Linked DNA regions of Homo sapiens: all the other regions are linked to region 1. The links come from fine-mapping of genetic effects on gene expression. A gene starts in region 1. Each other region holds a variant in brackets. All regions are shown on one strand. Distances are between the middles of the regions.

Evidence for each region.
Region 2: its variant is fine-mapped to the expression of NRROS in cerebellar hemisphere (GTEx, PIP above 0.99). The same link has a PIP of 0.9 or more in cerebellum.
Region 3: its variant is fine-mapped to the expression of NRROS in whole blood (INTERVAL, PIP above 0.99).
Region 4: its variant is fine-mapped to the expression of NRROS in whole blood (TOPMed, PIP above 0.99). The same link has a PIP of 0.9 or more in blood mononuclear cells and monocytes.
Region 5: its variant is fine-mapped to the expression of NRROS in whole blood (TOPMed, PIP above 0.99).

The regions. Positions count from the first base shown.
Region 1 is chr3:196,637,360-196,642,462 of GRCh38, reverse strand. NRROS (negative regulator of reactive oxygen species) reads right to left here and starts at 2,769. Exons shown (of 3, transcript NM_198565.3): 1 at 2,588-2,769. RefSeq lists enhancers at 415-474, 495-844, 2,013-2,132 and silencers at 2,583-2,682, 2,703-3,132.
Region 2 is chr3:196,588,483-196,593,585 of GRCh38, reverse strand. It overlaps FBXO45 (F-box protein 45), which reads right to left. Exons shown (of 3, transcript NM_001105573.2): 3 at 4,527-5,103. Among named protein-coding and RNA genes, the nearest start is that of FBXO45, 22 kb to the right of the region's middle. The variant A/G (reference allele first, on the strand shown) is at 3,149.
Region 3 is chr3:196,596,549-196,601,651 of GRCh38, reverse strand. No RefSeq gene overlaps it. Among named protein-coding and RNA genes, the nearest start is that of FBXO45, 30 kb to the right of the region's middle. The variant A/G (reference allele first, on the strand shown) is at 3,007.
Region 4 is chr3:196,685,434-196,690,536 of GRCh38, reverse strand. No RefSeq gene overlaps it. Among named protein-coding and RNA genes, the nearest start is that of CEP19, 24 kb to the left of the region's middle. The variant C/G (reference allele first, on the strand shown) is at 2,053.
Region 5 is chr3:196,661,756-196,666,858 of GRCh38, reverse strand. It overlaps NRROS (negative regulator of reactive oxygen species), which reads right to left. Exons shown (of 3, transcript NM_198565.3): 3 at 4,855-5,103. Among named protein-coding and RNA genes, the nearest start is that of NRROS, 25 kb to the right of the region's middle. RefSeq lists enhancers at 1-106, 107-769, 770-1,432 and a silencer at 427-721. The variant G/A (reference allele first, on the strand shown) is at 3,156.

The sequences.
Region 1 (5,103 bases):
CAGCTCCGGGACTTGCCTGGTAAAGAGGCCCACAGAGAGGAAGGCAAAGCTGAGGAAAGGAGACAGATGGATTCCTGGCAATGCCATTTGAGCATCTGGACTCAGCCATGCCTGAAACTATTGCCCATACACTTTTCAGTTATTTGAAACAATAAATCCTTTTTTTTTTTCTTTTTTGCCGAAGCATATTTACGTTGGTTTTTTGTCATTTGCTACCAAACCAATCTATCTAAGAATCTGATTCTTGAACTCGGGTTTATTGTTGCACGTGAGGCTTATAAGAGCTAAGATCCAAGCACTGATGTCCTTTTTCCTTCACGTCTCTGAGCTTTCAGAAATCATCACCTAACCTAGCCCTGAGCCCCATCACAGAATGACCACATGACATTTGCTTCATGATGAAGTTGAGAAAAATGGTTTGGGAGGAAAGTGAGTATAATAAAGAAGTTCCACCAAAGGCAAAAACATGACAAATGTTTGTCACTGATGTGCGATGACACATCAACAAGCATCAGTGAGCACAGACATCTGTAAGTGTGTCATACACACAGCATGTCCTAAGAAAGACAGTGTTTTCAGTCGTGGTTGAAAGTCCACCCTCTCCTGACTTCTGAGGCTCTAAAATGGATCTGCGCCTGATGTGAGGGACAGTCATTGTCCATACGAGAGTCTGGTGCACACTGTGCAGTGTGGACGCACACCGCAGCCAGAATGCAGGTTGTCATCAGTACTAGCATCTCTCTTCCAAAAGAGTCAAGACTGGAGACAGACAGGTCAATGTACTCTTAATGCACACCCCAGAACAAAGATACTAGGCGTCTGCTCTCTGTTTTGGAGTCTACCAGGTATGTCTCATCATCAAAGAGCAGGAACTCTTGGATGATGAATTTAAAAACTATAAGAGAATGTGTTTTCATGAAGTTCCCATGAGGGCACTCATTACATGAAAGCTGGGGGCGGTGACTCACGCCCACACTCCCAGCACTTTGGGAGGCCAAGGCAGGAGGATTGCTTGAGCCCAGGAGTTTGAGACCAGCCTGGGCAACACAGCAAGATCCTGTGTCTACAAAAAAATTTTAAAAATTAGCTGGCATGGTGGTGTGCACCTGTTGTCCTAGCTCCTCAGGTGACTGAAGCAGGAGCATTATTTGAGCCCAAGAGTTTGAGGCTGCAGTGATCTGTGATCGTGCCACAGAACTCCAGTCTGGGCAACAGAGCAAGAGCCTGTCTCTAAAAATAAATAAATAAATATATATATTTTTAAAAAGTGCCTTCTTTGTGAAGCTGAGTTTGTTTTGTTTTGTTTTGTTTTGTTTTGTTTTTTTAACCTAAAGGCAGGAGTTAAGGTTTTTTCCTGGGCCCATGATTCTATAATCTCCTTTAGGGACTCTCGGGCACACACACACAAACCTAAGAGGTGTGTGAGGAGAATAAATACGTATTGTAAATGTAAAGCCCAGCAAACCCTCAGCATCCACAGAACAGTCTGTGTGTCACAGCCGGCAGGTGAGGAGCACACAGGAAAGCATGGAGGGCCACAGACGCTGAATGTTTCTAGCACCCAGACTCCTAACGGGCTGTGCCCATCATGAAGAAGCCTCCGGTGGGGTCCCCTCAGCCCCTAGGGAAGCACAGCAGCCCCGACCAGCCCTGTCCGGAGAGGCTCCATTCCTAGGACCCCCGATCCGGCCTCCTCCAGTCGCAGCCACCAACTGGCACGTGTCCACCTTCTCTCAGAGGCAGCACAAAGCCACACCAGTGGCTCCTTACTTCTTTCCGTCTAGCTCCTGGGTACGTGGGGAAGTACGCTGACCCCTTCAGAAGCCGGCCCACATGCAGGGGCCACGAGGGCTACGGAAGAGCGTCCGAGTCTTCGTCGCCCTCCTGTTAGTCTCCCTCTGATAAGCCATGGATCTAAGTCTAGGCTAAGATCCAAGTCACAGAGCCCCAGTGAATCTCCCAAGGACAAACGTTCTGTGGGAGAAGGGGCTTTGCACATTTTCACAGCTGTATCCCCAGGGCCTTGGACAGGCCTGGCACGTGGACGGCATCTGTGATAGGTGTTGCTGTTAACCAGTCTTAGTGTCTTCATCTATGAGATAGTGGTTCTCAATCCACGTTGTGGGACAGGAAAGGAGAGCCCAGTGCTCAGCATGCTGAGTGTGCACAGAGCGGTCTCATCATATCCAGTCGCCCAGCCCAGGGAGGGAGCATCTCTGTTCCCATTTTGCAGATGAGAAAACTGAGGCTCAGAAACCTTAACTGTCTGCTCACATGCTCCCTGCAGAGCCAGGACTCAAACCCACGTCTGAATCTGAAGCCCTCGTGGTTTCCACTACGTCGCACCACCTTTCTCAGCTCTAAGTGCTCCTGGAGGGAGGTATTTCCACCTCCACCCAGAGCTGCAGCCCCCACGCCCAGCACAAAAGCGGCGGCGCTTGGACGCAGCAAGCCACAGCTTCCTCGTGAGCCCTGAGCTGCGGGCCGCGGACGCTGACCTCCTACCACCCAACCTCGCTCGAGCTCGCCCACCTGGAGAAGGGCCCCGGCTGTGCCCCGGGGACGCCCCCACGCGGGAAATACTCACGGCTCCCGCAGGCGCAGGCGGCTGCGCGGGGCGCATCGTCTCCGGGGGCTCCGGCCTCCTCGAGAGCAGCCGAACGCGGGGCTGGGCTACCTCCTTGCTGTGGGGCATCAGATTATTTTAGCACCAGCGGAAGGAACGGACGGAAACTGAAGTCACATGGAGAGCGGGCTGCTCGGCGACTCAGCACAGGCTCACTCAGACCCGGCCTCTTAGAGGGAAGCGCGGCGCGGGCGCGGGGGTGGGGCGGGCCGGGGGAGCGGGGCCCGAACACCTGCCGGCCTAGCGGCCGAGCAGCGGGGATGTTTAGACGATCTTCCAGCAATGCGACCGAGGCTCCCCCGGCTTTCTTGCGTTGGTGCCTTGGCAGGGCTGGGGGCGGCCAGCTAGGGGCCCCTTGCCTATGAGGTCTGCTGACCCAGAAACTTTGCTACGAGCTTCCAGCCAAGGACCAAGCTGAGGCCGACTTTGGGAACGGCAGCACCGTGGTAAAGAGGCACAGCCTGTCGTCTGGCAGGGTCAGCCGCTCAGCCAGTCTGTCTTCTTATCCACTCAGCCGGTCCTTGTGGATCATCTCCTTTACGGACCCTGTGTTAGAAAGAAGGGGAATTGCTTTGTCGAGGACTGTCAGAGAGTGCCAAGAGCTTCTTGATCTTAGACTGCGCGGATGGGTTTTTTTGTACCTGATGTGTACAAAGTTCCCTGCCAGCTCTTGCCAAGAATTCAAAGGAGTAAGAATAATTGATCATATAGCCATCATTGAAGCAGCGCCAGACACTGTGCTAAGAGCTTCATATGCATTACCCCAGCGCTCCTGTTCTCGAGGAACTACTGTCGTCTAGAGAAGGTGAAATATTTACAGTGCCTGCTGCGTGTGGAGTGACGTGGACCACCATAGTCGGGGGCTCAGACAAGGGGCCTCCAGTTCTGATCTCTCTCACTCCCCTTCAAATCTGAAACGTTGAACTGTCCTGCAGGATTGGGTCACCTCTCTTATAGCCTGTGATTTGGGATTGTGTGTAGCATTGTCCATCCTAAGAGAACAGGAGCCAAGTCCTTTTCACTCCAAACATCTGGCACATTGTCTCTGCTTTCTACAATATTCACTCATGGCCGGGCACAGAGGCTCAGGCTTGTAATCCTAGCATTTTGGCAGACCAAGGCAGGTGGACCGCCTGAGTGCAAGACCAGCCTGGGCAACATACTGAGACTCCATATGTACAAAAAATTTAAAACTTAGCCAGACCTGGTGGCACGCACCTGTAGTCCCAGCTATTTGGGAGGCTGAGGTGGGAGGATCACCTGAGCACAGGGAGGTTGAGGCTGCAGTGAGCCAAGATCACGCCATTGCACTTCAGCCTGTGTGATAGAGTGTGACTCCGTCTTTAAAAAAATAAAAATAATTTTAAAAATAAAATATTATCTCATAATGGTAATAACAATCACACCAATGAAAAAGCTAAATAAAGATCAAATTGTTGCAAACCCAGGTGCTTGATTCAGGCCTCTTTCTCTCTTGTATGCACATTCTCTACTTCATGTCTTTTGTGTCTACCAATCAGTTGGTAACTCCCCAATTTTAATTTCTAGCTCCAACATTCTCTTCCACGAGAGAAGATCCAGACTTGCATTTTTAACTGTCTACTGGTCAATCAACTGCTACATGTCCCAGAGTCACCATAACATGATGTATCCCAAACTCAACTCTCTCTCTTTTTTTTTGAGACAGTCTTGCTCTGTCACCCAGGCTGGAGCAGTGGCGCAATCTCAGCTCACTGCAACCTCTGCCTCCCAGGTTCAAGTGATTCTCCTGCCTCAACCTCCCAAGTAGCTGGAATTACAGGCGCCCACCACCACGCCCAGCTAATTTTTGTGTTTTTAGTAGAGATGGGATTTCACCATGTTGGCCAGGGTGGTCTCAAACTCCTGACCTCAGGTGATCCGCCCACCTCAGTCTCAGAGTCCTGGGATTACAGGCATGAGCCACTGTGCCTGGCCCCAAACTCAACTCTTATCCTTTGTCCCAGCAGTTTCTCTCCTGTATGGCTGTCACACTTTACGGTATGTTTCAGCCCAGGCAGTCCAGCCCTCACAGACTTCATCCTTCATATCTAATTGACCCCCAATTCCTGCTGATTCTAACTCAGAAATGTTTCTGGAATCCAACCTGCTTTTCATCCTTAGGCTGTTGCCCTGGGTCTAGACCTCATCAGCTCATGTCTGGACCACTTTCATAGCCTCCTGAAACTCGCTCCCTGCCCCTAATCTCATCCCTGTCCAATGTCAACTCCACCTAGCTGCCACGGGCATCTTTCTAAAATGTGTATTGGGTCATCTCACTCTCTGCTTAAAGCCCTTTTACAGGGTTCAGCAGGTTCAAGGGTTCCTCATGAATGCCTAAAGACTGGCAGGTGGGATCCAGGTACCCCATTCCCTCCACATCCCAAGAATTCTACTTTGATATGTTTTATACATTGGGAGATTCTCTATAGAATTTCTTTTGAGAAAGGCAGCTGCTA
Region 2 (5,103 bases), 49 kb after region 1:
CGCGCCACTGTATTCCAGCCTAGGCAACAGAGTGAGACTCCGTCTCAAAAAATAAAATAAATAAAATAAAATAAAATAATCAAATCGTAACATAAAATAAACCAGAGATTTTTGCCTCCACTTGAGGCTGCTCAAATGTCATTCCTGAATGGTGGTCTCCTAGTTCAGGGGAGAAGTACCTGGAGACTTAAAAACAAACAAAAGGCTGGGTGCGTTGGCTCACACCTGTAATCCCAGCACTTTGGGAGGCCGAGGGGGGTGGATCACGAGATGAGGAGATTGAGACCATCCTGGTTAACACGGTGAAACCCCGTCTCTATTAAAAATGCAAAAAATTAGCTGGGCGTGGTGGCGGGCGCCTGTAGTCCCAGCTACTTGGGAGGCTGAGGCAGGAGAATGGCGTGAACTCGGGAGGCGGAGCTTGCAGTGAGCCGAGATCGGGCCACTGCACTCCAGCCTGGGAGAGAGTGAGACTCTGTCTCAAAAAAAACCAACAACAAAAACAAACAAACAAAACTCCACTCTACTACTCCATGGAATTTAATTTGCTAGGGCATCTTATTTATTTATTTGAGAAGGAGTTTTGCTCTTGTTGCCCAGGCTGGAGTGCAATGGCTGGATCTCAGCTCACTGCAACCTCCCCCTCCCGAGTTCAAATGATTCTCCTGCCTCAGTCTCCCGAGTAGCTGGGATAACAGGCACGCGCCACCACACCCGGCTAATTTTTGTATTTTTAGTAGAGACGGGGTTTCTCCATGCTGGTCAGGCTGGTCTCGAACTCCCGACCTCAGGTGATCCGCCTGCCTCGGCCTCCCAAAGTGCTGGGATTACAGGCGTGAGCCACCGCGCCCGGCTGCATCTTATCTTTTAAAAGCTTCCCACATATAGGCTATCTTGATTGTGATGGATATATACATACATCAAAGCTTATCAAATTGTGCACTGGTAAATAGGTATAGCTTGTTTGATGTCAGTTATTATCTCAATAAAGCTAATTTAAAGAAATAAAAAACTCCCCAGGTGATTCTAGTGGGCATCCCAAAATGAGAAGCATTGAGCTAGGTCAGCCTCAGCAACAGCCCCAGGAAGGAAGACATCTGCTCCGGAATCGCGTCGTGACCAGCAGCGCCCCCAGGACTTAGACCGCATGAGTCCTGTGCTGTTGATCCAGTGGTCTTGCCTCAAGACCAAAATGATAGAACATTGCTGAGCTTCTCCCAAAATTAAAAAGAGGCACCTAAAAATTTTGAACTGAGGCTGGGCGCGGTGGCTCACGCCTGTAATCCCAGCACTTTGGGAGGCCGAGGCGGGCAGATCACGAGGTCAAGAGATCAAGACCATCCTGGCTAACACGGTGAAACTCCATCTCTCCTAAAAATACAAAAATTAGCCGGGCGTGGTGGCGGGCGCCTGTAATCCCAGCTACTCGGGAGGCTGAGGCAGGAGAATGGCTGGAACCCGGGAGGCGGAGGTTGCAGTGAGCCGAGATCACACCACCGCACTCCAGCCTGGGCGACAGAGCGAGACTCTGTCTCCAAGAAAAAAAAAAAAAATTGAACTGCTAGGATTGTTATTCAGAGGTGTGGGGTATGTAAGGAAAAGAAAAATCCCGAAACAACAAAACACCCCCGCAGCCTTTAGTTGGCAGAGTCACGGTTTAGAAGGCAGTTGGTTGTCCTTTGGGGGTATTGCAGGCCCGCCTCCCTCGCTCTACCCGCTGGGCTGTGGAGCCCGTACGGCCAGTGAGGAACGCGGCACACCAGCAGCTCTCTCATCCAGCTGGCTGCCGATCTCCTTAACTCCAGGCTCACTAGTTCCAACTGCCTTTTCTGTATTTCCACCTCCGATTTAACATGTTCAAAACCGCACTCGTTACCCTCACCCCCCAATCTTTTTTTTTGAGACAGAGTCTCGCTCTGTCACCCAGGCTGGAGTGCAATGGCGCGATCTCGGCTCACTGCAAGCTCCGCCTCCTGGGTTCCCGCCATTCTCCTGCCTCAGCCTCCCGAGTAGCTGGGATTACAGGCACCTGCCACCACAACCGACTAATTTTTGTATTTTTAGTAGAGGCGGGGTTTCACCACGTTGGCCAGGCTGGTCTCGAACTCCTGGCCTCAGGTGATCTGCCCACCTCAGCCTCCCAAAGTGCTGGGATGACAGATGTGAGCCACTGCGCTCGGCCCCTCACCTCCCAATCTATTCCTCCTTTTCAATACCCTTTCTTAATAAGCAGTACCTTATAAATGTCTGCACCAAAAAGCTTCTCACTCTTGACATACAAATGGTGTCCACATGTGTTCCTGCATTCTCTTAAATACATCCCTCCTCCATCTTTAGTCACCTTAGTTTAGGTCCTCATCATTTTCTGCCTAGACCTCCTGACTCCCACCTTTCAGATATTGGTTTTTGTAGCTAATCATGCCCCTGCTGAAAACTTTTGAATGGCTTCCCCCATGAAAAAATAGACAAAACCCAAACTATTTGGTATGGCAATTATAATCCAGACGCAATTTCCCTGTTCCATGCCCTCCCCCACCACTTGTCCAGCATGGTTCCAGACATAGCGGACCTATCTGTGCCTCCGTATCATAGCACGTCCTATCCCACTTGCCTGGAACAGTGGATTTATCCTCATTAGCTCCCACCTACTATCTTCTAAGCTCAGCTTAAACATCGCCCCAGGTTAACTATTCCCTCTCCTATGCCACCCTGGACCTCACCTGTAATTTCGTTAAAGCAGTTACCTCAGTTTCACAGTAGTCTGTTTCCACATTTGCTTTCACAGAAGCTTGTCAGCAACTTCGATTTTTCCTTCTCATCTTTCCATCTCTAGTACCTGGTAAAAGCCTGCTAGATAACGGATGTTAGAAAATAATTTGATGAATGATCTTTCCTGCCTTTTTCATTCTGTCTACATTACCAAGTGGATGACTAGTAGCTGGGTGGGCAGGGAGATCCTTCAAAATTTCAGAAGCTCAACTATGGCCATGTAAAACCTAGAGTGGCCTCCGTGACTCCGTCGGCACTGAAGTTCCTGTAGGCTGTGCTCAGAAGGGTGGATTGCGCTGGGCTTTGCCACCAGTCTCTGCTCAGAGCAGTGTCTTTGCTACCAACATGTCTTTTAGCAAAGTAACCATCTGTCCGTGCT[A/G]TTCTGGGCAATTGGATCATGAACTACATCACTCTTTGGCCTACTGAGGGGTTAGAGATGTCATCAACAACTCTCATTGCAACCTTAAGCCTCCTTTCCTTCCAAGGTGAAGATGACCAACAAGGGGGCACAGATCAATCATATGCTCTTTAAACATGGGTTGGGAATATGAACAAGTTAGCTATATTAAAATAAACAAAGATATCTGGTCTGTTCCCACTACAATATGCCTCTAATGAATCTAACTTGAGACGCTAGAATTTTAATACATTATTTCAGGGAGACTTTCTTAAGGGAGCTATGACCTCAAAACCATTACTTGATTTTATCCCCATTTTATTTATACAGGAAAGGGGGCAGAAATATAACATGGTGTACAAGTATCATATCATATCATAGACAGGACTTGACTTCTCTAATCTTTTCTTAATGTTTTCCTGCCTTAAACAGAAATTAAACACTATCAACAGGGTGACCTAAGGAAACTCCCCAAATGATTCCTACTTCTTGAGCCACTCATCATGAAATCCTACATACAAAAGCTGAATAACAATCTTAAATCTTAAAGGGCTACTTCTTTCAGCAAACTATTATTCTGAAGACTAGAGAACATGTTGCTCTCAACAGTATTTTAGTGAACACATTAAATAAGAAGCAAACAGTTCGAGGGAGGATCCAAAAAAGAAATCAGGACAACAGACTGGTAAAGCTGTCTCTGGCGTCTCTTTCCACTAAACAAAGCGGCAAATACAGAACATTTACACCTATTTTTCTTTTATAAAATTTAAATGCTTTGGGCTGGGCACGGTGGCTCATGCCTGTAATCCCAGCACTTTGGGAGGCCGAGGCACACGGATCACCTGAGGCAGGGGTTGCAATGAGCCGAGAGCACATCAACTGCTCTCCAGCCTGGGTGACAGAGCAAGACTTTGTCTCAAAAAAAAAAAAAAAAAAAAAAAAAAAAAAAAAAAAAAAAAAAAAATTAAAATGCTTTGAACTTTAACATATCAGCCAACTTGTTTAGCAACATCATCAACTGATTCTCTTTTAAGCTTTTGGATCACAGGAGCCGTGTATTCAGCCAGTTCAGGAATAGCATGCCTGTCTCTCATAATTCTTGGCAAACAACTGCATTATCAAACAAATGTCAGCAGGAGGGTGGGGTGGGGGGCGGTAGAGGCAATTGGGAAATAAGACCCTAGTGAATTACTGTTCTCTGTCCACTTTCCATTCTAAACATGGGGAATGTGGATTCTATTATTAAAGCCATGGAATTTATAGGTAAATTCCATCACCACCTCTGGCTATTAAGGCACCCCAATTTTTCTTTCTAACCAATGTGTAAAAAATGTCTTTAAATGTAAGCAATCACAGGTGGTTAATGTTTAACTTTTTATTAAGAAACTAAGGCAAAACAACAGAATTCCAAAAAATAAAGATACAGAATTCTAATTTAAATTCTAAACAAATATAAAAATCAGAGTTTACCAGTATTTTTGAGTAGAGGGGAGTGGCTAAATGCATTCACAGTAATTATTTCTTCCTTACCAGCCTCAAGTTTGCAACCCTTTCCTTCCTGCTTCACTGGGACTAGAACAGAATTTCTCATTCATCTTTTGCTACTATAATTTTTGCTTCTATAGTCTAAAACTTCAGAGGAGCTTTTGTCTTTCTCCGCAGTTCTTTCTCTGTTCCTTCAGCAAATATGTGAGCACCTGCCTATTGGGCTTACATGTTGTGGCACAAAGATGAGTCCGTTAGAGATCCTGTCCCAGTTTAGGGGCGATATGACACCAATAAATAATCAATAAATAATTTTAAACAAGGTATAAATAAATACAGCATGAGTCAACTATAGATATATAAAACTAGGGAAATTTCAAGGAGAGATTACATTCAGCTAGAGAAACTGAGGAATGTTTTTGAGGACAGCATTTGGGCTGGGTGTGGGCTGT
Region 3 (5,103 bases), 41 kb after region 1:
TAAAAATTCAGCTTCTTCTGGCCTGCAAAGTGTCAGGGATCTATAACTGTGAGTGCTCTGAGATTAGGCCACAGACTTTTGCTGTCTCAACATTTTCTCCTCTTGGGACATTTCCTTTGAGTTGATGTTCTGCCAGTTTCTACATTCAGGCTCAGCCTATGGTGCCAACCTGTCAGTGTGGTGCCAGCGAGGTGCTCTCAGAGGGAGCAAGGCAAGAAGAGGTGACGAGAGCCCCAGACACAGTCTCACACTGAGGCATGGGCAGCAGTAAATGAGGAGAGGCTGGGTGAGGACCAGAGGACCAGGAGTCCAGGCCAGGATGCGACACAGAAAAGGCAAGGGTTAGATGGGCAAGGTGTGACATCAGAGCCCGGCAAGAGGTCTCTGGCTGGGCTTTAGGGTCGCTACATTTGGCAAATACAAATAAAGAATGCCCTCACCTCACACCCTTTAGGATGGCTATTTGGGAAAACGAAAACATCAGATAGACGCGTTGGTGAGGACGTGGAGAAATGGAATCCTCGTGCACGGCTGGTGGGAGTGTAAAATGTGCAGCCAGCCTGGAAAACAGTCTGGCAGTTCCTCGAAAAATAAAACAGAGAATGGCTGTATGATTCAGCATCCCACTGCTGAGAATAGACCCACAAGAACCGAAAGCAGAGCCTCAAAGAGACCTTTGCACACCCGTGTTCACAGCAGCGTTCCTCACAGCAGCTACAGCGTGGAAGCAACCCAGAGTCCATCAACGAATGAATGGATAAGCAAAACGTGGCTCGATGGAACAGTCTTCAGTCTTACAGAGGAAAAAAATTCTGACACATCCTACAACATATGAATGAACCTTGAGGATATTACACTAAGTGAAATAAGCCAGTCACAAAAGGGCAAATACTGTGTAATTCCACTTATCTGCAGTGTTTAGAGGAGTCAAAATCACAGATACACAAAGTAGCATGGTGGTTGCCGGGGACTGGGGAGTTGGGGGAATGTAGAGTTATTGTTTAGTAGACATAAGGTTTCAATTTTACAAGATAAAAGAGCTCGAGAGGCCGGGCATGGTGGCTTGCGCCTGTATTCCCAGCCTTTGGGAGGCCGAGGCGAGAGGATCACTTGAGTCACGGAGCAGGAGACCAGCCTGGGCAACACAGCAAGACCCCATCTCTACTAAACAAATAAGCAAACAAACAAAGTTCTGGAGATGGATGGTGCTGATGGTTGCACACATCATGAATGTATTTAGTACCACTAACTGTACACTTGAAATTGGTTAAGATGGTAAACATTTTACATTATGTGTACAGTACCACAGTTTGAAAATTGGGAAAAAATGCAGTGCCCACAGTGAAATTTGAATTTTAAACACGAATAATTCTTTAGTATCATTATATTTCATGCAACATTGGGTATGTATGTATACTAAAAAACTATTCATTGATCTGAAATTTCATCAGGCATCCTGTATTATGTCTGGCAACCCGGACACAGGTCAGGGTTCTATAGTGAATGGTGATCATGATTCATACACAGGCTGAGGGAATTGTTCACAGAAGCGAGGAGAGGAGCAGAGAGGAGCTGGCTGTGAAGAGAGAGAATATATGTTCTTCCCATTTTCCTCTCCAGTCCTGGTAAATAAAACAACAGTCAAAATGTATCTACTGACTCTCCAGGCAAGTCAGCCACCCCAGCACTACTCATGTTTATCTCTTCAAGAGCACTTACTTGTTATTGGATGTTTATCTGCGACACGTCTGCCTCCCCCTTGAGGAGAAAGTAACCAAAGTTTTGAGTCAGAGATCTAGGCTGAAACAAGACTCTGAAACTTAAGGTGTGTGACTTTAGCAAGTTATTTATCGTCTGTGAGCCTCAGTGTTCCACGAATGTGAATACCATCAAGATATTCTAATAAATAAATCAAGTAATGTAGATAAAACACATAGCAGGTGCCCAGAAATATTAAGCACAACATCTCTGAAGACCTGGAGTGCAGGGACCCAGTCCTAACAGTACCCGCGCTGCAGAGTCCTAACAGTACCCGCGCTGCAGAGTCCTAATGAGAGGTGACAGCGTGCTGGCAGTCCTCAGAGCCCTCGCTTGCTCTCGGCCCGCCTCTGCCTGGGCTTCCACTTTGGCGGCACTTGAGGAGCCCTTCAGCCCCCCACTGCACTGTGGGAGCCCCTTTCTGGGCTGGCCAAGACCGGAGCCCGCTCCCTCAGCTTGCAGGGAGGTGTGGAGGGAGAGGCGCGAGCGGGAACCGGGGCTGCGTGCGGCGCTTGCGGGCCAGCTGGAATTCCGGGTAGGCGTGGGCTTGGCGGGCCCCGCACTCGGAGCAGCTGGCGGGCCCTGCTGGCCCCGGGCAATGAGGGGCTTAGCACCCGGGCCAGCGGCTGCGGAGGGTGTACTGGGTCCCCCAGCAGTGCCAGCCCACCAGCGATGTGCTCGATTTCTCACCGGGCCTTAGCTGCCTTCCCGCTCGGCAGGGCTCGGGACCCGCAGCCCGCCCTGCCTGAGCTTCCCACCCCCTCCGTGGGCTCCTGTGCGGCCCGGGCCTCCCCGACGAGCGCCACCCCCTGCTCCACCATGCCCAGTCCCATCGACCACCCAAGGGCTGAGGAGTGCGGGCGCACGCGCAGGACTGGCAGGCAGCTCCACCTGCAGCCCCAGTGCGGGATCCACTGGGCGAAGCCAGCTGGGCTCCTGAGTCTGGTGGGGACGTGGAGAACCTTTATGTCTAGCTCAGGGATTGTAAACACACCAATCCACACTCTGTATCTAGCTCAAGGTTTGTAAACACACCAATCAGCACCCTGTGTCTAGCTCAGGGTTTGTGAGTGCACCAATCGACACTCTGTATCTAGCTGCTCTGGTGGGGCCTTGGAGAACCTGTGTGTGGAAACTCCGTATCTAACTAATCTGATGGGGACGTGGAGAACCTTTGTATCTAGCTCAGGGATTGTAAACGCACCAATCAGCGCCCTGTCAAAACAGGCCTCTAGGCTCTACCAATCA[A/G]CAGGATGTGGGTGGGGCCAGATAAGAGAATAAAAGCAGGCTGCCCGAGCCAGCAGCGGCAAGCCGTTCCGGTCCCCTTCCATTGTGTGGAAGCTCTGTTCTTTGGCTTTTTGCAATAAATCTTGCTGCTGCTCACTGGGTCCACGCTGCTTTTTATGAGCTGTAACACTCACCACAAAAGTCTGCAGCTTCACTCCTGAAGCCAGTGAGACCACGAGCCCAGCGGGAGGAACAAGCAACTCCAGATGCGCCGCTTTAAGAGCTGTAACACTCACCGCGAAAGTCTGCAGCCCACCAGAAAGAAAAAACTCCGAACACATCCGAACATCAGAAGGAACAAACTCCAGACGCGCGCCCTTAAGAGCTGTAACACTCACCGCGAGGGTCCGCGGCTTCAGTCTTGAAGTCAGTGAGACCAAGAACCCACCAATTCCAGACACACTAACAGTACCCGCGCTGCATATTCCATGGAGGAGGGGCTGAGTCAAAGGAATGTGAGTGCTATATTGATTGCCTAGACTAGGGCTCTACATGTTCCATTCTTGCTGCTAGTCATGATTATGATGGGAAAAGAGGTAAGAAGACCTCAATCATAAATTGTGCACCAGCCACTTCTGATAAGGTCTTGGAAGGCAGATGCATAGAAGACAAGGCTGTGCCACTTTCCTTCACTATAGCATGCGTTTCTTTATGGGCAGGGAAGCTGCAGGCAACGGTGTTTTTTTGTTTTGTTTTGTTTTTGTTTTTGTTTTTTGAGACTGAGTCTCACTGTCGGCCGGGCTGGAGTGCAGTGGTGCGATCTTGGCTCACTGCAACCTCCGCCTCCCAGCTTCAAGCGATTCTCCTTCCTCAGCCTCCTGAGTAGCTGGGATTACAGGTGCCCACCACCATGCCCGGCTAATTTTTGTATTTTTAGTAGAGACAGGGTTTTGCCATCTTGGCCAGGCTGGTTTCGAACTCCTGACCTCAGGTAGTCCAACTGTCTCAGCCTCCCAAAGTGTTGGGATTACAGGCATGAGCCACCACGCCCGGCCAGTGAATAGTTTAACTCATCGTGGGGGTTTCTAAGTGAGGGACTTGGGTGTGATTTCATGACAACTGGTCATGAAATCAGGGGACGCCTATGTTTTTGTGCAGGGAGAGGAGGCCTGCGGGTGCGTAGGTCCTCTTAAGCCCCTCTGGGTTCCATCTTCCTACAAGAGATCCTTTTCAACCAGGCGCAGTGGCTCACGCCTGTAATCCCAGCATTTCGGGAAGCCAAGGCGTGTGGATCACCTGAGGTTGGGAGTTTGAGACCAGCCTGACCAACATGGAGAAAGCCTGTTTCTACTAAAAATACAAAATTAGCTGGGCATGGTGGCGGGCATCTGTAATCCCAGCTACTTGGGAGGCTGAGGCAGGAGAATCGCTTGAACCTGGGAGGCAGAGGTTGCAGTGAGCCGAGATTGCGCCATCGCACTCCAGCCCGGGCAACAACAGCGAAACTCCATCTCAAAAAACAAACAAAAAACCAAGAGAGATCCCTTTCTATCTGTCTCAAAACCCACAGCTCTAAGTGTCACTCTGTGAGAAGCAGAGCATTTCACTTGGGTGTCACGGCAGAGGATTTGAATTCCGTTGCCATCCTTGCCCTAAAATACTTCATTTCACCTCATCACCAAACTCCCTTCCAGGCTGGGACCCTCAGTTCATTTTAGTATTCCAAAAGTAACCAAAATTAAGCTCTGGGTGTGTAGGAAAGGAGTCCAGTGAAAGATATGAACATAATTCCCACAAGAGAGGGAGAAACTTATTACCCTCATTTTTCATGCTTAAAATAAGCAGGCAGTGAGCTGCTGGGTGTGAATGATTTCGTGTCAGCTAAACAAAAAACAGATCACCAAGCTGGTTTTCCTCTGAGTTTCAAACCTCACCATTCTTTAGTCTCTCCCTTAAAACAGAGAAGAGAAGGACGAGGTAAGAAGTACAGTTTCTTCAAGACCCAAAAGACCTGAGCTTTCTCTTCTTGCCCTTGATTTAGCAAACCAGCTCCTGCTCAGACACAGCCCCTGACAGCGCAGGTAGTGTCTGTTGCTTCTCAGGGCAGAGGCTGGGCAA
Region 4 (5,103 bases), 48 kb before region 1:
TCAGAACACTAGTCCTGGACACCTGTGTTTCTCCTGCCCGCAGGCAGACCCTTCGGGAGACACTTGACCAGCGCAGGCCCTTGGGGGGCAGCTCGCCAGGTAGGACCCCTCCCTGCCAGCTGGGGTTTCCCAGCTCCCCACGCTTGAGTTCTCCTACCTAGAATCTTCTTAGGACTACTTTTAACAGCTGCAGTCCTCTCTGCTTGCTTTACGCCTCCCGAGACTCGTTGTTGCAAAAGTCTTTCTGTGCTAGAGACCCAAACTTTGAATCTCTACTCAAGCTAGTGGTTCTTAGACTTCAGCATGCACCAGACTCATCTGTGGGACTCACGATAGCGCAGATTGCTGCGTTCCACCCCCAGAATTTCTGATTCAGTAAGTCTGGGGTGGAGCCTAAGAATTTGCATTTATTTTCCTTTTTCTTTTTTTAATTTGTTTGAGATAGAGTCTCGCTCTTGTCACCCAGCCTGGAGTGCAGTGGCGCAATCTCAGCTCACTGCAACTCCCACCTCCCAGGTTTAAGCAATTATCCTGTCTCAGCCTCCTGAGTAGCTGGGATTACAGACGTGTGCCACCACGCCTGGCTAATTTTTATATTTTTAGTAGGGACAGGGTTTTGCCGTGTTGGCCAGGCTGGTCTTGAACTCCTGACCTCAGGTGATCCGCCTGCCTTGGCCTCCCAAAGTGCTGGGATTACAGGTGTGAGCCACTGCGCCTGGCCAAGAAATTGCATTTCTAACAAGCCCCCAGACCACACTTTGAGAAGCGCTGTGCGAGGCTTTTGCTTTCCTTCACTGTTGCTGTGGGTATTGGTGTTCCAACCCACAATTCCCTTTTGCTCATACTAGCTTCAGTATATTCCAGTGTCTCTCTGCTTATAGGCTTTTTGTAATAATCTTATTTCTATGGAATTCTGATATACTATGGCCTTTTTTTTTTTTTTTTTGAGACGGAGTCTTGCTCTGTCGCCCAGGCTGGAGTGCAGTGGCACGATCTCTGCTCACTGCAAGCCCCGCCTCCCAGGTTCACGCCATTCTCCTGCCTCAGCCTCCCGAGTAGCTGGGACTACAGGCGCCCGCCACCACGCCCGGCTAATTTCTTGTATTTTTAGTAGAGACGGGGTTTCACCATGTTAGCCAGGATGGTCTCGATCTCCTGACCTCGTGATCCGCCCGCCTTGGCCTCCCAATATACTGTGGCCTTCTATTTTAACTATCCTACGACCACTGGCTCTGTGGGCCAGGGTTTCACCCTCACACAGGTGCTATGCACTTAGAAGGCATTCTTTTTTTTTTTTTTTTTTTTTTTTTCAGATGGAGTTTCGCTCTTGTTGCCCAGGCTGGAGTGCAGTGGCGCCATCTCAGCTCACCACAACCTCCGCCTCCGCCTCCCGGGTTCAAGTGATTCTCCTGCCTCAGCCTCCTGAGTAGCTAGGATTATAGGCACACACCACCACACCCAGCTAATTTTGTATTTTAGTAGAGACAGGGTTTCTCCATGTTGGTCAGGCTGGTCTCGAACTCCCGACCTCAGGTGATCTGCCCGCCTCGGCCTCCCAAAGTGCTGGGATTACAGGCATGAGCCACCGTGCCTGGCCTAGAAGGCATTCTTGCTGAAGAAATTCGGCGGAGGGAAGGATTCATGCAGGCTGGAGCAACAGGGAAAGCTTCACAAAAGGAGTTGGAGTTGAGTGTGTCCTCAAAGGGAGATTTGTCTGTGTAGAAGGGAGAGGAACGAGCATTCCTGACAATGGCTCCTGGACATAGGAGCATTTGTTGGGATGACACGGAGGAACAGACTCTCACTGGAACACACATCTCTTCAATGAGGTGGTGAAATACATCATGGGAAGGAGCCTGTCTGTACCAGAACTCTTACAACCTATTAAGTGCAATTAGCCTCGCTGTAGCCAAAGGGATGTTGATTTTGCTCAGCAGATTGTTATTCAGGATCCCCAGGGACAGTGGTGCTGTGTGGGCAAAGCAGCGTGGGCAGCAGCAGCGTGGGAATGGGTGTGTTCACTCCCGAAGCCCAGGACAGATAACTCCACTT[C/G]TTGTTTCTGTAGAAAGAAGTGTGGCAAGAGCTGACCCGAGGAAGAAGCTTTGCTCAATAGGAAATGAGCTATGATGATGAAATGAGGAAGCCCTGCTGGGCTTCAGCTTGATGGTTCTGAATTATAAAGAGAAAAGAATGTGCAAAAAGCGAATATGATCGTGGAAAACTGGAAACACTCCAAATATCGAAAACTGGAAACACTCCAAATATCCATCAATAAGACATTGGTTAAGTGAATTGCGCAGTGTCCATGCTGCGGCATACTATGAAACCCTTAGGCAGAAGAAGGTAGCACTGGGCATAGTGACCTGGAAATAACTCCTAGCTACATGGTTAAGTGAGGAAAACAAGTTGCCAAATAGTATATTATAATTCTTTGATTTAAAAAATATATCAGTAAAAACTCTTGAATGAGGCCAGGTGCAGTGGCTCACACCTGTGATCCCAGGACTTTGGGAGGCCGAGGCGGGCGGATCACCTGAGGGCAGGAGTTTGAGACCAGCCTAACCAACATGTAGAAACCCCATCTCTACTAAAAATACAAAATTTAGCCGGGCGTGGTGGCGCATGCCTTTAATCCCAGCTACTCGGGAGGCTGAGGCAGGAGAATCGCTTGAGCCTGGGAGGCAGAGGTTGCAGTGAGCCGAGATCACACCATTGCACTCCAGCCTGGGCAACAAGAGCAAAACTCAGTCTCAAAACAAAAACAAAAACAAAACAAAACTCTTGAATGATGTGTGCAAAGTGACTGTTAACAGTTTGCCTGTGGAAAGAGGAGTGGGGTTAAAGTGGGAGATAGAGAGCTTAAGTGACTTTTCATTTTTTATTTTTAAAATTAAATTTCTGAATGGTTTAAATTTTTTCAAACATGCAATTGAAATAAATTCCAGCTAATGTGTACTCAGTGCCAGACACTGCTCTAGGTGTTTTAGGCCTATTATTTAATCCTCCCAACAAACCTCTGGAGATAGGTATTATTAATCTCCCCCATTTTGCAAATTAGAAAACTGAGGGCCGGAGCAGTGAAGCAGCCTGTCCAAGGTCACACACTAATAAGTGGGAGAGTTGAAATTTGAACCCACGTCATGTGGCTCCAGCATCTATGGACTGACCCTCTCACTGCAAGGCCCTCGATGGACCATGTTGGTCCATGGGATGGTAACTGTAACTGTAATAAGATTCCAGTAAAAACCGCACAAAAACTATGTGCATAGAAAAAGCAATGGGAGTCTCTATAGTTGTCCCTTTAAAACATGGATCCAAAGATTCACTCTGAATTCCAGCTCAGACAGGCTAATTCAGGCATGAAATATAGTGATTTCAGAACACAAGGAAAGCCTCACTTCTCCCTCCTACCCCAAACTGTTGGTTAACATTTCTTGAACAAGGACTAACTTTTTACCACCCAAATAGCGATCAAGCTTAATATGTGAATATTTCTGGACAAGGCGTAACTATCTCAAATTTAATTGTGTATATCTCTGATTTAATATTATCAAGGTGTAAATAGCAATCACATACAAAAAGCAGGTTGTGATAAGAGATGGGGAAAAGGCAGGAAGGAGGGACTCAGAGCATGATAGGGTACATATGGGGAAGGCAGACGGCAGCAGACTATCATATACTAGTTATCAATGATACTTCTTTACAGTGATAGAAGCCTTCCCTTTCCTAAGAACTTCCTATGTATTTACACATTTGATCTTGACAACTTATGAACTAGAGAAGACAGATTTCTTCATTTTATTGATAGGGAAAACCAGGCTCCAGGAGGCTGTGACTTGGTAAATTACCAAGTTGGAACCGGAACCCAAAACTCCTGATTCTCCCTCGAGGATTCTTGAATTACACCCAGACACTTCAGCCACATCACAACTTCACCCAGCATTAGGTCTGAGTCAGCATCAGTGTAAGAAAATGTAGCAGACAAAAGCTCCAGAGGTTAAAGGGAGCAATAGGACCCTGGCCAGGACCCACTAAAGGACATCCAGGTGGAAGGACAGAGGAAGAGCCCAGGTCAACATAGGGGATGCCAAGGTCACAGGCTGGGGGAATGGCCCCAGTGCTGACACCAAGCAGCTAGGAAACAGGGCAGAAGTTTTGATTGTGGCATCTATATGCCAGGACTTTGCTCCCACCACTTCTCCCATGCTGCCCCCATTTCTAGAATCTTCCTCCTATTTCTTTCCCTTCATTCTTTGCTTTCCTCTCCCACTCTAGCTCCAAACTCGCATTTGCAGTTGTATAAAGGGGGGAAATACATGAATTTTTAGAAATAAAATTTGTCTTACCAATGGGATTGGAATTGTAATCCCATTCTCTTAAACTCATTTTAAACCCCTACTAAATCTTTGAACCTTTTCTACTTTATCACATGGTTAGAATGGGTGAAGTTCCATTACTCAATTCTTTCATCACTTAATTAAATCCAATTAATCTATTGACTGCTTTGCTCAATCTTTTTTTTTTTTTTTTCCAGACAGAGTCTTGATCTGTCGTCCAGGCTGGAGTGCAGTGGCACAATCTCGGCTCACTGCAACCTCTGCCTCCCGGGTTCAAGCGATTCTCCTGCCTCAGCCTCCCGAGTAGCTGGGATTACAGGCATGTGCCACCACACCCGGCTAAATTTTTTGTACTTTTAATAGAGATGGGTTTCACCATGTTGGCCAGGCTGGTTTCTAACTCCTGACCTCAGGTGATCCGCCTGCCTCGGCCTCCCAAAGTGCTGGGATTACAGGCCTGAGCCACCGCGCCTGGCCAATCTGTTTAATCTTGAATTCTCTTCATATTCTTTCTATGACTAGTGCTACAGCGGTGCTGGATGTTTAAGTGATCTTCAGCTGAATTCCGCATCTCCCATGGCTTTGACTCTGTAGTCACCTCCCCTAAAAGTCATGCTGATGACCTGAAGACATGGACACGCTCCACAATCCATGCGATATAGAGGAGAAGGAAAATAAGAATGAAAACAAATACTAAACACTATCATTCCTCTAGGGTAGGGGTGTCCAATCTTTTTTCTCCCCACATTAAAAGAAGAATTGTCTT
Region 5 (5,103 bases), 24 kb before region 1:
ACGCCGGGTAATTTTTTGTATTTTTAGTGGAGACGGGGTTTCGCCATGTTGGGCAGGCTGGTCTCAAACTCCTGACCTCAGGTGATCCGCCTGCTTCAGCCTTCCAGAGTGCTGGGATTATAGGCATGAGCCACTGCACCCGGCCGAGAAGGATTTTTTTAAATAACACTTTTTTTTTCCCCAGCTCCATCATCTGTTTGCTTTGGTCATTGCAACACCCACACTCTTTTAAAGAAGGTCTCCAAGGCTGGAAACTTCTCCCACTCTAATTTGGGTAAAATATGAATATGTTTGTAACACACTGAGGCGTGCCATCTTCCTCATGTCCACCTTCTTCCTCATGTCCACGCATGGACTCCATGGAAATCAGGGGACTCCATCTTCGGGAGATTTGCTTTCCTAGCGCTGGCCGCGCATCCTTAGCACTCTGTGGCTCCCTGACACAAGTGCTGGAATCTCTCGGGCTCAGGATTACTAAATGAGTAGCCAGCTGCGTCATGCAGGGACCCAGCAGGAACCAGATGGCACGTTCAAACAAGGACAAGTCAGGAGGATTTACAAAGGGACGATTCACAAAGCGGTGGAGAGGGGAGGGCAAACCGCAAAGGATAATGCAATTACACGAGCTGGTGAGGCAGAGCTGTTACCCATGCTAGGCCCAGAGAAGAGAGCCAGGGGAGTGAGTGGTTCCTAGATACCTAAGGCAGAGATTCGTGTGCAAAGAGCCGCCTTGAGACGAGTGTGAGTTTGGTTGATAGGTGCAGCCAGTTTGAGACAAATCTACAGGGAGGAGTCAGGAGAATAAATACTCTGACCTCACTTTCTTCCTCCCCTGTGATTTGCCAAACCTCCTTCTTAGCCAAATACCACTGGAAGCCAAAGGGCAAGGGAGCCCATTGAGGCCAGCCTCCTGGGGCAGGGTGGAAAAGAGTGGGAAGTAGATCTGGAGGGGCAAATGGAAGTTATCTGGCACATTAAATAAATAAAAAGTGATATGACCAGTGATACAAACCAAGGATTAGAGTTTGTCCAATTGCTTGCAACTGGGGTCGTTTAAAAAAAGAAATCAGCAGGCGCCGTGGCTCAGCCTGTCATCCCAGCACTGTGGGAGGCCGAGGCGGGCGGATCACAAGGTCAGGAGTTCGAGGCCGGCCTGGCCAACATGGTGAAACCCCATCTCTACTAAAAATACAAAAATTAGCTGGGCGTGGTGGCAGGCACCTGTCATCCCAGCTACTCAGGAGGCTGAGGCAGGAGAATCGCTTGAACCCGGGAGGCGGAGTTTGCAGTGAGCCGAGATTGCGCCATTGCACTCCAGCCTGGGTGACAGAGCAAGACTCCATCTCAAAAAAAGAAAGAACGGAAAAAAATCAATTGATCCCTAACTTAAATGCCTCCAGAAAAACCTTCAGCTTTTGTTTTATGACTGGATTTCCAAAATCTAAGTTACTGTTACTCATGTTCACAGACCAGTCTCTGACATGATTTATCTGTGATTCTGAATATCCTCCTGTGTGAATATTCTGGCATGTGGCAACCGGAAATGGCCCCCTACTGCCCACCCACTGAGGAAGAACCACGTGGTGCCCCACCTGGCTGAATGGGAGCTCTTAGGCAGACACCATTCTGGCCCCACCGAAGAACTCTGGTAACAGGCTTTGTGGGTCCTTCCCTCGCCAGTAGGTTCTCCTATGGGTCCAGGTCGGAGTGGGAGAAGCAGGGAAAGGGGACAGAATTTGCTGGGGGAACCATAGCTGAGCACTGAAGGCAGAAAGCACCTTCCCTATGTAACTTTCCGCATACTGAGAGAAACCTAGAAAATCATCCTTTTTTTTTTGAGACGGAATTTTGTCTTGTCGACCAGGCTGGACTACAGTGGCGCCATCTCTGCTCACTGCAACCTCCGCCTCCCAGGTTCAAGCGATTCTCCTGCCTCAGCCTCCCGAGTAGCTGGGACTACAGGCACACGCCACCACGCCCAGCTAATTTTTGTATTTTTAGTAGAGATGGGGTTTCACCATATTGGCCAGGCGGGTCTCGAACTCCTGACCTCAGGTGATCCACCCACCTCAGCTTCCCAAAGTGCTGGGATTATAGGCATGAGCCACCGCACCCGGCAGGAAATCACCTTTGGATCCTTGTGATGGAAAACACTAGGAAGGAAAGCCCACAGCCTTCTAAAGTCACAGTCACAGGCAGGGCTGGGGCTCAATTTGTCATCCTCCCGGGCTGGACCCCAAGAACAGAAAGAGTGGGTGGTCAGCTACATGGTGTGACTTGAGGGGCTTCAAAAGTCCTGCTGAACCCCAAACTATCTCCCCGACTGCCCTGAGTTTCTGTCTGAAGTTTCCATCATTTGAGTCATTTCTTTGTGCTAAGAATTTGCTTCCAGAAGTTGCCTGCTAAAATGTACACGCTGCCTGGGCGCGGTGGCTCACGCCTGTAATCCCAACACTTTGGGAGGCCACAGTGGGCGGATCACCCTGAGGCCAGGAGTTCAAGACCAGCCTGGCCAACATGGTGAAACCGTGTCTCTACTAAAAATACAAAAATTAGCTGGGTGTGGTGGCGGGCGCCTGTAGTCCCAGCTATTCAGGAGGCTGAGGCAGGAGAATCGCTTGAACCTGGGAGGCAGAGGTTGCAGTGAGCAGAGATCACGCCACTGCACTCCAGCCTGGGCAACAAAGCGAGACTCAGGCTAATAAATAAATAAATAAATAAATAAATAAATAAATAAATAAAATGTACATGCAGCCATAAAAGGATACGGGACTTACTTTTCATTCATTTTGTTTGCTCAACGTCTCACTTCCTTTCTTAGGTTTCAAGAACTCTGCCCCCTCATAAGAATTTGGAGGACACGGAGCCTATCTTCTGCCATAGACACCTCGCCAAGGGGTACAGCATTGCCGTGCCAGTCCTTCTTGTACTCAGGGCAGGGGCACATGACCACGGTCAGGAGCTGGCGATGCAGCAGAATTTGGGGAGCATTTATTTCAGCAGAAGGTGGCAGGGGTGGCTGCAGCCATGCTCCCACAGTTACTGCTCATGGCATGGTTTGGGCTGAGGTCAGGAGTTCGAGACCAGCTGGTCCCAATTGCTACACAGCATCTTCTGTTCCTGCCCATTTTCCAAGCCTGTTCCTCAGCCTTCCC[G/A]AGAGTCCAGAGCTTACTAATATTCTCTTACTAAATGCGTAAGCTACTTAAATCAGACAGAACCGTCTTCAGTTGCATGAGACTAAGAACACTGATGGATACCAGAGGTGACGCATTAACTCAAGAGAAGCCGTCAGTGCACCAGCCACAGATAGATGCATTTGTCTAATTAGCTAGTGTTCACATTAGGAAACAGCAGGACCCCAGAGAAGGGTTTTGTTGATGGGGAGAGGAAATCAGGAGAGTCTGGTCTGATGTTGCGTTGGCTGATGGGACTTGCCCGGAAGGCTTCAAGGCAACCTGAGAGACATCCACGACACTAGGCTGGGCGCAGTGCAGGAGGGAACGGTGGGGTCATAGCAAGGGCAAAGCCCAACAGGACCTGCCGCTAACGCTACTGAATGTGGGGCCTGAGATGGCAAAGCCTAACAGGACCTGCCGCTAACGCTACTGAATGTGGGGCCTGAGATGGCCTTGTTCAAACCTCTGTAGAGCATCCAAGGGAAGTTTCTGCTGTGTCAGAGTAAGACCACTGATTTTATCTCTTTGATTTGCCTAAATATTTCTGCTGACAGTTAGTCTGCATGGTAATAGCTATCAGTTTGTGGGATTTCTAGCCTCTCTCCCTCCCCATCCCTCCCCCATTGCGTTTAATTCCTTTATGATTTAGTAAGCAGGGATTAAAAACTTTGAGGACAGTGTAAATTCTAAACTACCAGAGGACGGGGGCTGTGTCCTTGTTATCTTTTCTCTCAGAGAGGAGCACAGACATTGTTCGTTAGTCATTGAACAGAGGGAGAAGGGAAGCTAAGAATCTAGTGAATACAGATACTGAACATCTGCTATGAAGTTGTAAGCAATTTTTTGTGAAGAGTTAGGAGGGTTCACAAGTGAGCAGAATTCATTCCTTTCTGCATTCCTCTTTACTTCCCTTCAGAACGAGGACTGTCTCTGGCAGTCGGCTTACTGACTGGATAAACTCGGGGCCAGTTATTATTCTCTTGGTTTCTCCATGGAAGAGTCATGTCTGTCTGCCAGAGACTCCGGGTATGAAGCCAGGGCACCTGGAGAGGGCCCAGCTAGAGGTCCATTATTTTATTTATTTGTTTATTTTTTGAGACGGGGTCTTGCTCCATCGCCCAGGCTGGGGTGCAGTGGTGTGATCTCGGTTCACTGCAACCTCCGCCTCCTGGGTTCAAGCAATTCTCCTGTCTCAGCCTCCCAAGTAGCTGGGATTACAGGCGCCCGCCACCACACCCGGCTAATTTCTGTATTTTTAGTAGAGACGGGGTTTCACCATGTTCGCCAAGCTGGTCTCGAACTCCTGACCTCAGGTGACCCGCCTCAGCCTCCCAAAGTGCTAGGATCACAGGACCGTTCTGACGGCGGTGGCCAGTCACGCAGCAGGTGAGAGGCCTCATCTTATGATCTTATGTCAGACCCTCCAGCTGTGCTTTGAAATGCTTTGTTGTCGTCGTCCTGCTATGAAATCCTTGTGTCGTCGTCCTGCTATGAAATCCTTGTCCCTGTTGAGTCCCCAGGGCACTGACTCACCATCTCTAGCACCTGCTCTTGGAGTTCTTTTTCCAGTAGGTTGCATTGAATTGCTACCCTCGGCTCCATGGATGTCACCAAGGGGAGGACACTACAAAATAATCCAAGGGAAACCAAGGAACAATAAAAAAAAACACAAGCTGCATTTAATTTAAAAAATATTTATGAGACACGTTGCCTTTTATTTCTGAAAAAGTCACTTAATAAATATTTTACCAAGATAATGAGGATGAATTATAATGATGGAAAAAGAACTTGGGCGGTGGTGGGGGCGGGGGTGGGGTGGGCGATGAGGAATGGAAACATATTAAATTTTAATTGAAACTTCAATTCGTCAGACTTGGCCTCTGCATCACATCTTGAAAGCTGGCAGAGAAAGTGTCCTGTTGTGTGC